Linked DNA regions of Homo sapiens. The protein of the gene in region 4 purifies or fractionates together with the protein of the main gene of each other region. This does not show direct contact. Each region holds a gene or a part of one and is shown on either strand. Other genes may lie near its edges.

What was found. The genes of interacting proteins can lie anywhere in the genome.
Region 1: the proteins of VTCN1 (region 4) and NGLY1 purify together in Homo sapiens (affinity purification with mass spectrometry, with the first as the bait; one large-scale study listed by BioGRID). This does not show direct contact.
Region 2: the proteins of VTCN1 (region 4) and EIF2AK3 purify together in Homo sapiens (affinity purification with western blotting, with the first as the bait; one study listed by BioGRID). This does not show direct contact.
Region 3: the proteins of VTCN1 (region 4) and NCALD purify together in Homo sapiens (affinity purification with mass spectrometry; 2 studies listed by BioGRID and IntAct, with this or other methods). This does not show direct contact.

The regions. Positions count from the first base shown.
Region 1 is NC_000003.12:25,718,444-25,721,443, forward strand, and holds the end of NGLY1 (peptide-N(4)-(N-acetyl-beta-glucosaminyl)asparagine amidase), read right to left. Parts: intron 1,749-3,000; coding exon 1,571-1,748; intron 1,193-1,570; coding exon 1,017-1,192; 3' UTR 501-1,016; downstream 1-500. UniProt on the Homo sapiens protein: Specifically deglycosylates the denatured form of N-linked glycoproteins in the cytoplasm and assists their proteasome-mediated degradation. Cleaves the beta-aspartyl-glucosamine (GlcNAc) of the glycan and the amide side chain of Asn, converting Asn to Asp.
Region 2 is NC_000002.12:88,556,241-88,558,852, forward strand, and holds the end of EIF2AK3 (eukaryotic translation initiation factor 2-alpha kinase 3 isoform 1 precursor), read right to left. Parts: intron 1,697-2,612; coding exon 1,496-1,696; 3' UTR 501-1,495; downstream 1-500. UniProt on the Homo sapiens protein: Metabolic-stress sensing protein kinase that phosphorylates the alpha subunit of eukaryotic translation initiation factor 2 (EIF2S1/eIF-2-alpha) in response to various stress, such as unfolded protein response (UPR).
Region 3 is NC_000008.11:101,780,970-101,784,469, forward strand, and holds part of NCALD (neurocalcin-delta), read right to left. Parts: intron 1-3,500. UniProt on the Homo sapiens protein: May be involved in the calcium-dependent regulation of rhodopsin phosphorylation. Binds three calcium ions.
Region 4 is NC_000001.11:117,148,428-117,151,927, reverse strand, and holds part of VTCN1 (V-set domain-containing T-cell activation inhibitor 1 isoform 1 precursor), read left to right. Parts: intron 1-3,500. UniProt on the Homo sapiens protein: Negatively regulates T-cell-mediated immune response by inhibiting T-cell activation, proliferation, cytokine production and development of cytotoxicity.

The DNA of each region.
Region 1 (3,000 bases), on a different chromosome or scaffold from region 4:
TATTATATATTTTATAATACATGTCACGTTCTATTGAGTGGCACAGGGTGAGACTCTTGAGTGTGTCTTTTTCTTGTATAAAGAGTTGAGAACTCACTTTGCAGAATATCACAAAGGAATCTGGAGGCTTGGGGCTATGTCTTTTTCACCACTGCTTCCTCCACAGTGCTATCACAATGCTTTGTACATAAATGCTTAATAAATGTTCACTAAATTTGAGAGGTTATACAGAATATACACAAAACCTCTTGATACAACATATAGATACTGTATAATATAGTTACATAGTTTCAAAATCAAGAATATTTTATTCAATGAGGTAGATAAAAATATAACTCAAAGGTAAGGCATTTTCAAAATGTCCACGTATTATGGAATTTAAAATGTATCCTAGTTTATGTTGTCAATGTTAAATGTTTTCATAACTCATATCTATTCAAGTATTTTTCAATGTTTAGAAAAAAGATTTTTATTTAGCCAAAATAACCACTAAAAAGATGTAAGGCAAAATACTTCATTTTATTTCTTAAATGCCTGAATATTTATAATCATATAAATTTTCATGCATTATATAATTTATGAGCTACTGTACTTTCACATTAATTAAAAATATTAGGAGACTCTAATTTAACCACTTCTGAAGAAATGAATGGCTGATCAGAAAATGTCAAATTACTATCATAAGCCCAAGATTTTATCATAATCATGAATAGCATTTAATCATGAATATCATTATTTAACTTTTAAAACCATACTTACAGTTTTAGATTAAAATCCCATATTGAGTCAACAAGACTTTACTCCAAATTATAGTCACATATGGAAGAAAGGTTTTAATTCAATATTTTATTATAGTCCACGTATAAAGATAATTTTCATGAGGGTTACATGATGGATAGCTAGCAAAAGAAATATGCTAGCACAGGGTGGTAACTGCCAACTAAGCATGCACTGAACCAACAGACTACTTCAGTAAGTCCTTGATTATTGCCAGCTTTTCTATAATGTTCAGGTTCTCAAAGGTCACTGAATTTTATAATTATCTCCAAACAATTTTCTTCATGGTCATTTAAGCTTTGTCTAAACAGCTGGGTGTGTTGCCAAGCGACATCACCATCTCCTCTGCTTAATTCTGCTTCCAAAATAACTTCAGTGGCACCAGAAAAATCAGCATAGGAGTGAAGACTGTTATCTGTTAGAGGGAAAAAAAAAATTAACATTTTGCTTTTGGTAATTTAAAGAGCACAGATCATTTTGAAATGTATTTTATATAGGCTGATGTATAAGTTAAAATAAACCCTTAAAAATAAATACAAATTATTCTTTATGGAAGAAATGCATCCTTTGAAACAAAGAAATGATTTTTTCCTTGCATTTGTATTTCACAACAGAAAACATCAGCCTTTCTGTTACAATGGGATCACACAGGGTTTATTAAATTTTTTTTTTTTTACTGAAATAGTATTAATAACTCTTAGGTACGAAAAAGAGCTACATCTCAAATAAGTACAATTAGTCTTCAGAGTGGTAAATATATATTTCGTGATTAATTCTCCAGGCAAATGCTTACCGCCTGTCAGTTCTACTTGTGCTGTATCAGATCGCAATTTCCATTCTACTGTTCCAGTCTGAAAAGTTTGACTACTTGTTCTAATAGAAATGCTATCTACTTTTAGGCCAACTGACCCACACTCAAACTTCCAGGAAATATAAGCAAAAGATGATCCTTCCTTTCGGGCCAAATATACCTATAAGGAGTAGGGATGGGGAGAAAGGAACTGTCAGAAAAAATGAAATAGTATAGAAAACAAACTTAGTGAAGAATATTACTGTCACAGGGTAGTATGTACAAGTGGTTATTTAAAAACTAACTTTTCCCTGTTGAAAAGGTTCTTACTGCTAACATTTTTTTTGGCAATTTTTCCCATGGCATCTTTTACCCTAGAAGACAGGTATTATTTGAATGCAGATGTCCCCAAAAAGTGCAATTCTAAAGGACTGCATTCTAACCAAATTTTGGTAAATCATCTTCTTTTATATTAAGAAGTTCAACTCTTTAAAATGAGTTTTATGACTAATCCTGCTGAAAATGAAGAATCCTTTTAAATGCAACTACTCTTTAATTTTTATAAGTCTGGATTTTCATATACGCTTTCCTAGTGTGACATGGTATGCTATAGTCTCTAAATCGAGAAAATACCTGAGCCACTGCTAACTAATGGTTTAAAAGGTGATATCCATGCTCACTTCTCTAAATAGCATGCTCCCTGTTCCTTCATCAACGCCCTTTAGCACATTAAATGTATACTATTTAAGGCATCTAAGCCTACTGGCTGCTTCCAGCTCATCCCCTCTCATACTTTTATCTACACTCCTCAAAACATTGCCATGAAAACTGACATCCACAGCCTTGGTCTTTCACAGGTCACTCTATTCAACCATGCTCAAACTCTTAAGACTCTGACGCTTCAGTCGTTCATCCCTTACGTCTGAATTCCCACAAAATTCTATGTATTTGTTTGAAATCTTGGAAAGAAACCCCTTCCTCACTAATACTGCACTTACTACTACAGTTTGAACTTTACACTTATCTTAATGCAATTGACTACTGTTGTACAATTCCAATTGCTCTGACCATATTTTTATTTTCAAGTGTATTATTTTAGACACAGGGTCTCACTCTGTCACCCAGGCTGGAATGCAGTGGTGCAATCATAGCTCACTGAAGCCTTGAACTCCTGGGTTCAAATGACCCTGTTGTCTCAGCCTCCAACTACCATGCCTGGCTAATTTAAAAAAATTTTTTAGAGGCAGGGTCTCACTATGTTGCCCAGGCTGGTCTTGAACGCCTGCCTCAGTCTCCTGAGTTGCTGAGATTGTAGGTGTGAGCTACCGTGCCTGGCTCTGATCAGATTAATGTTTTAAAATCCCACTCTCTTTATGTTATCTGCCTGGTCTGAAATGTACAGCAAGTACTTGGTTCTTACATTAAGTCTAATC
Region 2 (2,612 bases), on a different chromosome or scaffold from region 4:
CAGCCACAAAGATCTGGGAAGTGTTTTTCCAGCGTACAAGTTGCTCATAACCTTGCGTGGCAGACATTATTTGTTTGTAATATGGAGATGCTATGCATTTTGACCTTTCTAGATTGTGTCTAGCTGGTTCATGCCCCATCAGCCCAGCCTGCCACATGCCTCGATGTGGCACATGTCAGATACACCTCGGTATCAATACAACTAGCATCACCACAGCCCTTTTCTCTGAGAGCTCTCCCTTTAGGGGAAAGTCCTCTATATTCTCAGTCCTTGGCACAGGGTAGGTACTGGGCAAATGTCTGTCAATTATGGATCTTGTGAATTTTGAAAGGGCCTGCCAAGTCTTTGGGAAATGATGAAAAAGATACCTGTCTGAAATGGGTTAGGAAGAAGTTTTTTTGAGGATAGGTTTATGACTCTTCCTAGATCTATGATCCCATTTTATAAATTAGAAAATCTACCATTTTGGGACTAACTCCTCAAAATAAGAGTCAACATACTTAATTTAAAAAAAGTTTTATTAAATCATTTAGACTTGAAAGAAGTCACAAGTTAACACACTTAAGTGTGTTCTGTACACCACCAACCCAAATGGATTGATTTCAGAATTTTTATAAATAAAACATAAACATATTTACAGTGAAAAATAAAAACATGTTAGCAAGTGAGATGATTAAACTGTTACCTATAATCAGTTTGGGGGAAGTACCAACCTACAGGATTACATATAAGACACTTAAGATTTCATTAGGCTTAAAAAGTCCATAGTTGAAGAAGTTAGTTGTAATATATATGATCCATTTCTTACTACGGCTTTTTTCCTCCCAAAACTAGACCTTTCAACCAATTTACATAAAAAGCTTCATTTTCCCTTTATTGGAGGTAAAAGTACAAAAAGCTGTAAACCCACCCTAGAACCATCTAAGGAATAAAGCTATTGAATGCTACAAATAGGACTATAAAACTACGGACATAAACCGTTATACAGTTTGTGCTACTTGTCCTCCAAAATAGTGCAGATTCCTAATTTACCCGCCAGGGACAAAAATGGAGTCAGCTTTTTCTAGAAATCAGTTTCAAAATCATCATATCTCTAGAAAGCATATTTCTAGAACAATACAGTTACCACACAGGGGGACTTTCCTTCTTCTGCATTATAAAAATATATCCATTTTAGTTCTCACTATATATATATATTAGGGATTGCTGCTACCTCCTTAGGCAAATGGTGAGGGCTATAAAGCTTGGCCAGCAGCCAGTTTCAAGAGACTAACAAAGAACAAAGATAGCCCTTTCCTTAAGTATAGCAAAACTCAGGAGTTGGCTCAAATTAGGTTATGCCCCCAAATCCAGCTTAAATTTGATATAAAAAAAGTAGTCCACAAAAAAATTGAGCGAAGAACAAACTTTTCAAGTCTGCAATTTTGGACAGGCATATTCTAAGAAGTAGGCTATTATCTGCATCACCTATTAGGGTTGCTAGCACAACTTAAGGCTAATTGCTTGGCAAAGGGCTATGGGAGTTGTTGGACTGTCTTGAATGTTTTGTTCCCGATGAACTCAAGGAGCGAGACCTCTGTCTGAGCACTGTTTTTCCTGGAAAGTCCAAGTCCTCAAATACAGCATTTTCAATGATGTTTATAGCTTCAGGTCGTTCCATGGGGGATGGAGAGAGCATGTCTTGAACCATCACGTACTGAAAATATAAAAATTGTTTTGTGATAAAACGGCCAGGTTTGATCACTGTACAGTTTTTAAAATCAGTGCTGGCAAAATATTTCTGTACATATTTTAAGCTTTTGAGCCATATTCGAGTTTTCAAGTCTCTGATACAACTACTCAGCTCTGCCGTCAATGCACAAAAGCATCCAGAGACAATTTGTAAATTAATGGGCATGGCTGTGTTCCAATAGAACTTTATTATAAAAATAGGTGGCAGGCTGGATTTGACCTGTGGGCACTAGTTTGCCAACCCTCATTCCAAAAAAACATGGACAATTTTTGGGTAATTTGATTTTCTAACACATTATAAAGGATTATTTAATCACATCCCTGAAACATAAATATGATTTTTAAAAATCATCTTATAATTGCATGTAAATCTACAATTATCTCAATAGAAATTTTAATTAGAAAAAATTATGGCAGAGATCAGCAACCAACACCTTTTCTTGGTTTTTAAAAATCTCTTTGAACGTAACATGTACTCTTATGAGCCACCCTGGGAATAGATTCATCAAGTTTGCAAAATACATGATGACAATTTTTAGTAAAACAGACTTAAGTATATGTAGGTATTAATATATTGTTATAAAGTCCATTTTTTAATGCAACCCTTCATTATAATACTGAAAGATAAATTTTGACTTTTTCCAATTTGAAAATGAACACATACTAACTCACTTCAACTTAATTACTTAAGGAAATTCAAGATTTATCAATATATAAATTTCACAGGTGCTACAGTGTGGAACACTGGACATTAGGCTGAAGGAGCCAGGCCCCAGCTCCAGTGTTTGGTTTTAACAAATTCTGGGCTCTTGGGAGCAGGTCTCTTTCCTCTCTAGACCTTTGGCTTCCTCATCTGTAAAATAGGGGAAACTGAGTCGACT
Region 3 (3,500 bases), on a different chromosome or scaffold from region 4:
GTAGGCTGTTTTGACAGTCTGAGGAGAAAGAGAGTTCTATTTCTAAATAGTAACAGATCGACCTTTAAAAATTGGAAGTTGATCAACATTTTTCAAGGTGGGCACAAACAGATCTAATGACAATTTCTTTTGCAAAGTGGAATTTGGACCAAAGATTGCATCTTTAATGGTTAAATAGCTTCTATTTTGTGAAATATATTCTGAATATACCAAAATATATATATATACCCTGAGAGAGAGAATGGTTTGCTTTAACTACCCCTGGCAGTTGGGCTTGTACCAAGGTTGGTACCACGTTGTCCCATTCAACCTGGGAGACTTTCTAGTCCTAGTAATATACTCAGATAGTCTTATGTTAGTCTTCTATTAATATTCATTTTAAATAACTTAAGTATACAGATCTTGTACCAAGAGCTCAGGGCTCACCAAGGGTTCCCTCACCATTCCCTCCTGAATAGCTGGGAGGTGACAAGGAGCACAACATGGGCAATGGCCTTGGGGCAAAGGCCTCTCGACACAAAAACCAATTTACAAACCTTCACAATTGCCAGCAGCAATAGCAAGTGATGTTTTGTAAGTGGAAAACATACCTTTCATTCACCATCAGAGACTGAAATAAATGACTCAACTGGTTTAAAATCTTTATGTGATCAAATAGTTAAAAAACATATCACCGATTCAATTTCTTCTGGTGTTGGACCTTAGGGACAGTACTAATCTGTGTGCTACTAGAGTGAAATTATCATCAATATCAACGCATTACTCTTCACTAGAATGATTAACAGATGGTGTTTTTGTTGGCTACCCAGGGATTTGTTTTCTATTATTCTTTGTATTGTACATATATGTTATATACACTTTTTTGCATGTATAATTTATAATATTTTTCTTAAAGATGGCATGCTCTGGTTAAGAACATTCTGATAGTTGCCAGACACTTATATTGATGATCAGTATTCAAAGATTTCAGGTGTAATGTAATGCAATGCACTCATAACTTACAACTAAAATTTCACTGAACACAACCTAATTTTTCATTGGTGACATGATTCAAAGATTTTTCAGAATAATGTGCAGTGTCTCAGGGGTTTCAGTATATATATATTGTATGTTTTATATATATATAAATATACATATAATATATATTTATATAAATTTTCATTGTATACTCATTATAGTATAGTTTTATAGAAAATGTTTTAAAGGCTTGACTTGTTCATTTGGTTTGGAACTTATATGAGTATGACTTTGATGAGTAATAGGTTATATGTTTAAAACTATGAAGTTACACAGCTTTGCCTACGGATATAACCCAGCTAAAGTTAAAATGGCTACTCACACCTACGGAGGGCAAAAGATAATTCACATTTCTTAAAATTTAAGAAGTTAAAACTTTTCTATGAGAAAAATGGACAAAAATACTTAGCACATATTCAGGGATTTAAATGAGCTGTGTAAAGAAACAGAGTCACTAAAATATTCTCACCCCACTTAACATGTACATCACTTCCCTGCTCCCAGCTTTCCCCAGCTTCCTAGTGTCTATCAGATCAAATCCAGCTTAAGTGGATAAATCCTAGATCCTCCATGGACCCACCATATAGATTATATATTTTTTCCTTTTCCCAACCATGTTCTTGACTCCAGGTGGGGAGGTGTCCTATTTCTGTCACTAGAATGTTCTCATCATGCTTCTCAATGAAGGATTATCCTTTCACTTTTGCTCCTCATGCCAGACGCTCTCTATCCTTTAGGCCCAACTCAAAGCTCACTTCCTCTCCAAAGTCATCTCAATGCCATATATCCTCTGGGGTTAATCTGTTCACTAATCACCTAACAGAGATGTAAAGAGGAGGCACTGTATGTCCTGCATGATGCTGGGCACTGTGGGAAGTTGTAGCCAGTGTGGAAGACGTAGCTCTGGCCCTCAAATGCAGATGCCATCCAGCCTTCCTAACTAGACTGTTACCTTTTCAAAGACTGGCTGGTCCTATATTACTCATGCAGTATCCTACTTAGCTGAAATATCTTGGATGAGATGGGATATATCCCGGTTATTGAAAAGTCTGGGTGATTGCACCACATCTGCCCTGTGTCTATGGTAAGCAAATGAGGAACAGCTGGAGAAACCTTAGCAGTCCTTGGACATGAAAGGAATATTTTCATAGGCACTTAACTCTAGGGCTCACTGTACAGAGTTAACAAATGCTGAATGAATAAATGAATGAGAGTCTTCTTAAGGGAAGAGGAGTAGACTATTAGGATGGGGTGAAGTTTAAGTAAGTGAGAAGAGAGTTGGGGCATTGATTTCTCTACAGCAGAAGGGAAAGGGATGCCTCTTTGAGTAAGGACACAAGGACCACATTTCTGAGGATTTCAAATGCTAGATTTGACCAACACATGGAGCCACAGACCAATGGGACAGCTGCCATTTTGGCAATTTTGTTAAGAGGCATAAGATTTTGTTGAATTAGCTAAATTTTACCTGGCTAAGGAGAATACCCTAGCTTTACTACAAACCAGTAGAGCAGAAAACATTGCCCTAGAAGCATAGGAAATGGGCCAAAATAGTGTCAAAGATACAGCAGTTTCTAACAATAGAAAAGTAGGCAGCAATTTAGACAGAGTAGGTATGGGAGAGGGAGACAAAGTGGACAAGGAGGACTGAGCATGTCCTATGATGGTCTAGGACAGATGATACGAGTACTGCCATCCACACTGCACTCTCCTGCAGGGAGGGTCCCAGTCAGTGGGGGCCAATGAGCGAGATCTTGCTAAGGCATGCAGTCTGGCCTCAGTGTAGCCCAAATCTTTTCCTAGAACCAGCAACAGCATTAACCTGTAGGACATTGTTCCAAATTTCCAAAAGCTCATTTGTAATTTGGTTGGTAACAGAAATATATTTTCCTCCAGAAATTAGGTTAGGTTAGGCCAAATCACAAAAGTCTATTTAATAATCCATATGTACCTGAAGTTTAGCCCTCTACACAGGCATTTCACTCATTTCTAATTACCCAAATGTCCCAGTTACTCTGATTGCCTAAGAAATTACCCCCCCACACCCCAAATCTTACGGGCTTAAAACAGTAACAACTTTTATTTTGTCCATGAAACTGCAACCTGGGGCAGAGCTCAGCAGGGATAGTGCATCTGTGATTCCCTGGCATCAGGAGGGGGAAGGAAGACCTGATGACCGGGCCTGGAGTCATCTGACAGCTTGCTCACTCACATGCCTGCCAGTTGATGCTGGATGTCGGCTGAGACTTTAGCAAGAGATGTTGGCTGAAATACCTACTCTTGGCCTCTCTATGTGGTCTGGGTTTCCTACAATATGGTGACTGGATTCTAAGGGAAAATGTCAAGAAGAAAAAGAATAGCAAGAGAGAAAAAAATTGTATTCTTTTTATGATCTATCCTTGGAAGTCACCTAGCATTATTTCCACTGTACTCTATCAGTTGGACCAATCATAAGCCCATTTAGGTTCAAAGGGAGGGGCAAT
Region 4 (3,500 bases):
CAATGAGATATCACCTAATGCCCATTAGGGTGGCTACTCTAAAAACAAAATAAGGCAAAAACAGAAAATAACATGTTGGTGAGGATGCGGAAAAATTGGAACCCTCATGCACTGTTGGTGGGACTGTAAAATGGTGCAACTTCTATAGAAAATAGTATAAAGTGTCATCAAAACAATTAAAAAAAAGAACTACTGAGATATGGAGCCAGCCGGACTTCGTGGGTCGAGTGGGGACTTGGAGAACTTTTCTGTCTAGCTAGAGGATTGCAAATGCACCAATCAGCACTCTGTCTAGCTAAAGGATTGTAAATGCACCAATCAGCACTCTGTAAAAATGAACCAATCAGCACTCTGTAAAATGGACCAATCAGCGCTCTGTAAAATGGACCAATAGGCAGGAAGTGGGCGGGGCCAAATAAGGGAATAAAAGCTGGCCACTGGAGCCAGCAGCAGCAACCCGGTAGGGCTGCTGTCTGTGATGTGCAGGGTTTGGTGTTTTGCTGTTCACAATAAATCTTGCTGCTGCTCACTCTTTGGGTCCACACTAGCTTTAAGAGCTGTGACTCTCACTGCGAAGGTCTGCAGCTTCATTCCTGAAGTCAGTGAGACCACAAACCCACTGGGAGGAACAAACAACTCCAGATGCACCATATCTGAACATCTGAAGGAACAAACTCCGGACACACCATCTTTAAGAATTGTAACACTCTCCAAAAAAAAAAAAAAAGAACTGTAACACTCAGGTTGGGCATGGTGGCTCACACTTACACTATCATATGATCTAACAGTCCTGCTTCTGGGTATGCCTTCAAAAGAATTCAGAGTCTGAATGAGATATTTGAACACCCATGGTCACAGTAGCACTATTCACCAAAGTCAAGAGATAGAATCAACCCAAAATGTCCATTAGTAGATGAGTAGATAAACAAAATATGGTATACACATACAATAGAATACCATTCAGGCTCAAAAAGGAAGGAAATCCTATCATATGCTATGACATGAATGAACTTTCAGGACATTATCTATGTGAAATAAGCCAGTCACAAAAAGACAAATACTATATGATTTAAACAAAGCATCTAAAGCAGTCAAATGCACAGAAACAGAAAGTAGAATGGTGGTTAGCAGAGGGCAGGGTGGAAGAGTTGAAGGAGAAAGGTTTTTGTTTAATGAGTATAGAGTTTCAGATTTGCAAAATGAAAAAGTTCTAATGATTTGTTTTATAACAACGTGGATATACTTAACACTACTGAACTGTACACTTAAAAATGCTTAAGATGGTAAATTTTGTTGTTTTTACTGCAATTTTTAAAAAGTATCTAACTAAAAAATTACATATGAGAGCGAGAGCTCTTGCACCATCTTGAGGAACAAATTGGCAACTATCCTGGTTAGGATTATTAGTTGCCTGTAACAGAAAACCAATATAAATAAATCTAGTCTGAAAGGGAAGTGTAGGAAGTGTACTAGAATGTTGTGGAACCAAAGACAGGAAGTTCAGTTGACTTCAGGATCAACTGGAACCAGGAACTTAAATCCCATTGAGATTCTTTTTCTCTCATTTCTACTTAATTCTCTCTTTACTCTCTTGTTTTAGTCCATATGGCAAGACGTGATTGCCAAGCATTCCTATATTTAAAAATCTCTTACTCAAGAGAGTGGTGAGACTGAACCTCAATTCATCAGTCTCATTCTACATTCCCAAGAAGGACTTTGACTCCACTTGGGTCAGCTGCCCATACCTAGGCCAATGAGGCAGTATCTGATGAAAGGCCTTCCCAGAAGAGAAGGAGGGACTGAAGTATTGGTCATTTAAAACAATGGGTGCTGACAACAGTATCTCAGTCCAGTTCCCAGTAAAAAGCTCCAAGCTGTGTAAATAATGTCTTCTAGTAGCAAGGGCCACAACTGAACAAGACATAGACATTGAGCACACCTTTTATTCAATTAACAGATCTGTCTTCTTTACATGTTTGTTGGATACATCAAAACAAGTGTTCGAAGTGTCAGGCTAGGATGAAATACAACTTTTGGTAGCTCAAAATTAAGAAAATAGCAGAATTTCTTATTGTTGTAGACAAAGTAGGTGCTCCATGCATGTTTTTAAACAAGTAGGGCCATGGGATTTACATATTGTGTTCTCTGCCTATACTGCTAATTTAGGTCATTCATTTAACAAATATCTATTGTGTGCCAAGTATGTTCAGAGTACTTTTTTAAGCCCCCTGAGATACTGAAATGAATAGCATAAGTATCAAAAGAGAAGTTAATCACAGTGTAGATTTAGTACCTATGGGAAAGAGTTGTTAATTATGACTGAAGTGGATCCATAGATAAGGCAGAGTTCCGGCTGGGTTTTGAAGAAGAAAAAAAATGGTTTGGATAAAATGGGAAGACCTGAAGTCAGGAGCTTACAGTAATGGTCTGGGGGAGAAATTATGAGAGTATTAACTGGAGCAGGGGCAATGGGAAAGAAAAGGGGGAAGAATCAAAAGTTGCATAAACAAAATAATGTACAGTCCTTGGTGATGCAAATGTGAAAGTCAAGAGAAATCACAAGTCAAAGTGGGTTTGATATTTCTACCCAGGATACTTAGGAGGTTGGTGATGCTACCAGAAAAAAAAAAAAAACCCACCCCAAAACATAGGAGCAATATGTGTGGGGAGTAGATAAGGGTTTTAGAGATGTCGAGTTTGAAATGCCCATAGTGTACCCAGGTAGAGATGCCCAGTGCTTAGCACAATAGCCAGCATGTGATAGGTTTTGGGGAGAACACTACACCCTTACTCCATATATTTCCTTTTATGAGAAGGGATCCCCACCAGTGTCATCTTTTTAGCCTCTCTCTTCCTCCCTCTTTCACTCTTCCTGAGAGAACAAGGAATTAATTTATCTGATTGATGAGTATATTAGGAGCAGCTGGACATAAGTAGCTCAGCTCCTCCTTTTTCTTTTTGTTTTTGCTAACTCTCAGGAAGCCCGTGTACATTCTGCTGTGCTCCTGCAGGCCGTCAGTTGTTCAGGGGTAGAATCTGCTCCTGCAGGAGACTTGCACCAGTCTGGTTCTGTCTGACAGTGGGGAGTCTCGGCTGTAGCCCACTTGCCTAACTACAAAGCCTCATTCTCTATTAACATATTTTCAGCACTAAAGGTGATATTTTGATCTTCCAGTTGCCTTATTTTTTTGTCCTTCTCTTTAATTGGTTCAGAGCTAAGCTGGGGAAGAGGCTGTTATTTATTGGACTTCTTTGAACCCCAATAGTAGGTACTCAGAAATATTTACTGAATAATTATGTTTTTAAATGACATATCTAGCAGCAACTGGAAATCTAGATGTGGAACTCAAGACAGAGTTCAAACTAAGGAGGTAGACTTGGAAATGACTAGCATGAAAGTGATATTTATTAGGCTTGAGTGATGTTGGCTTTATTGTCGTTTTTACAGCCAGTACTTATGGAGTGCTTATTATAGGCCAGACACTGTTCTAAGTGCTTTG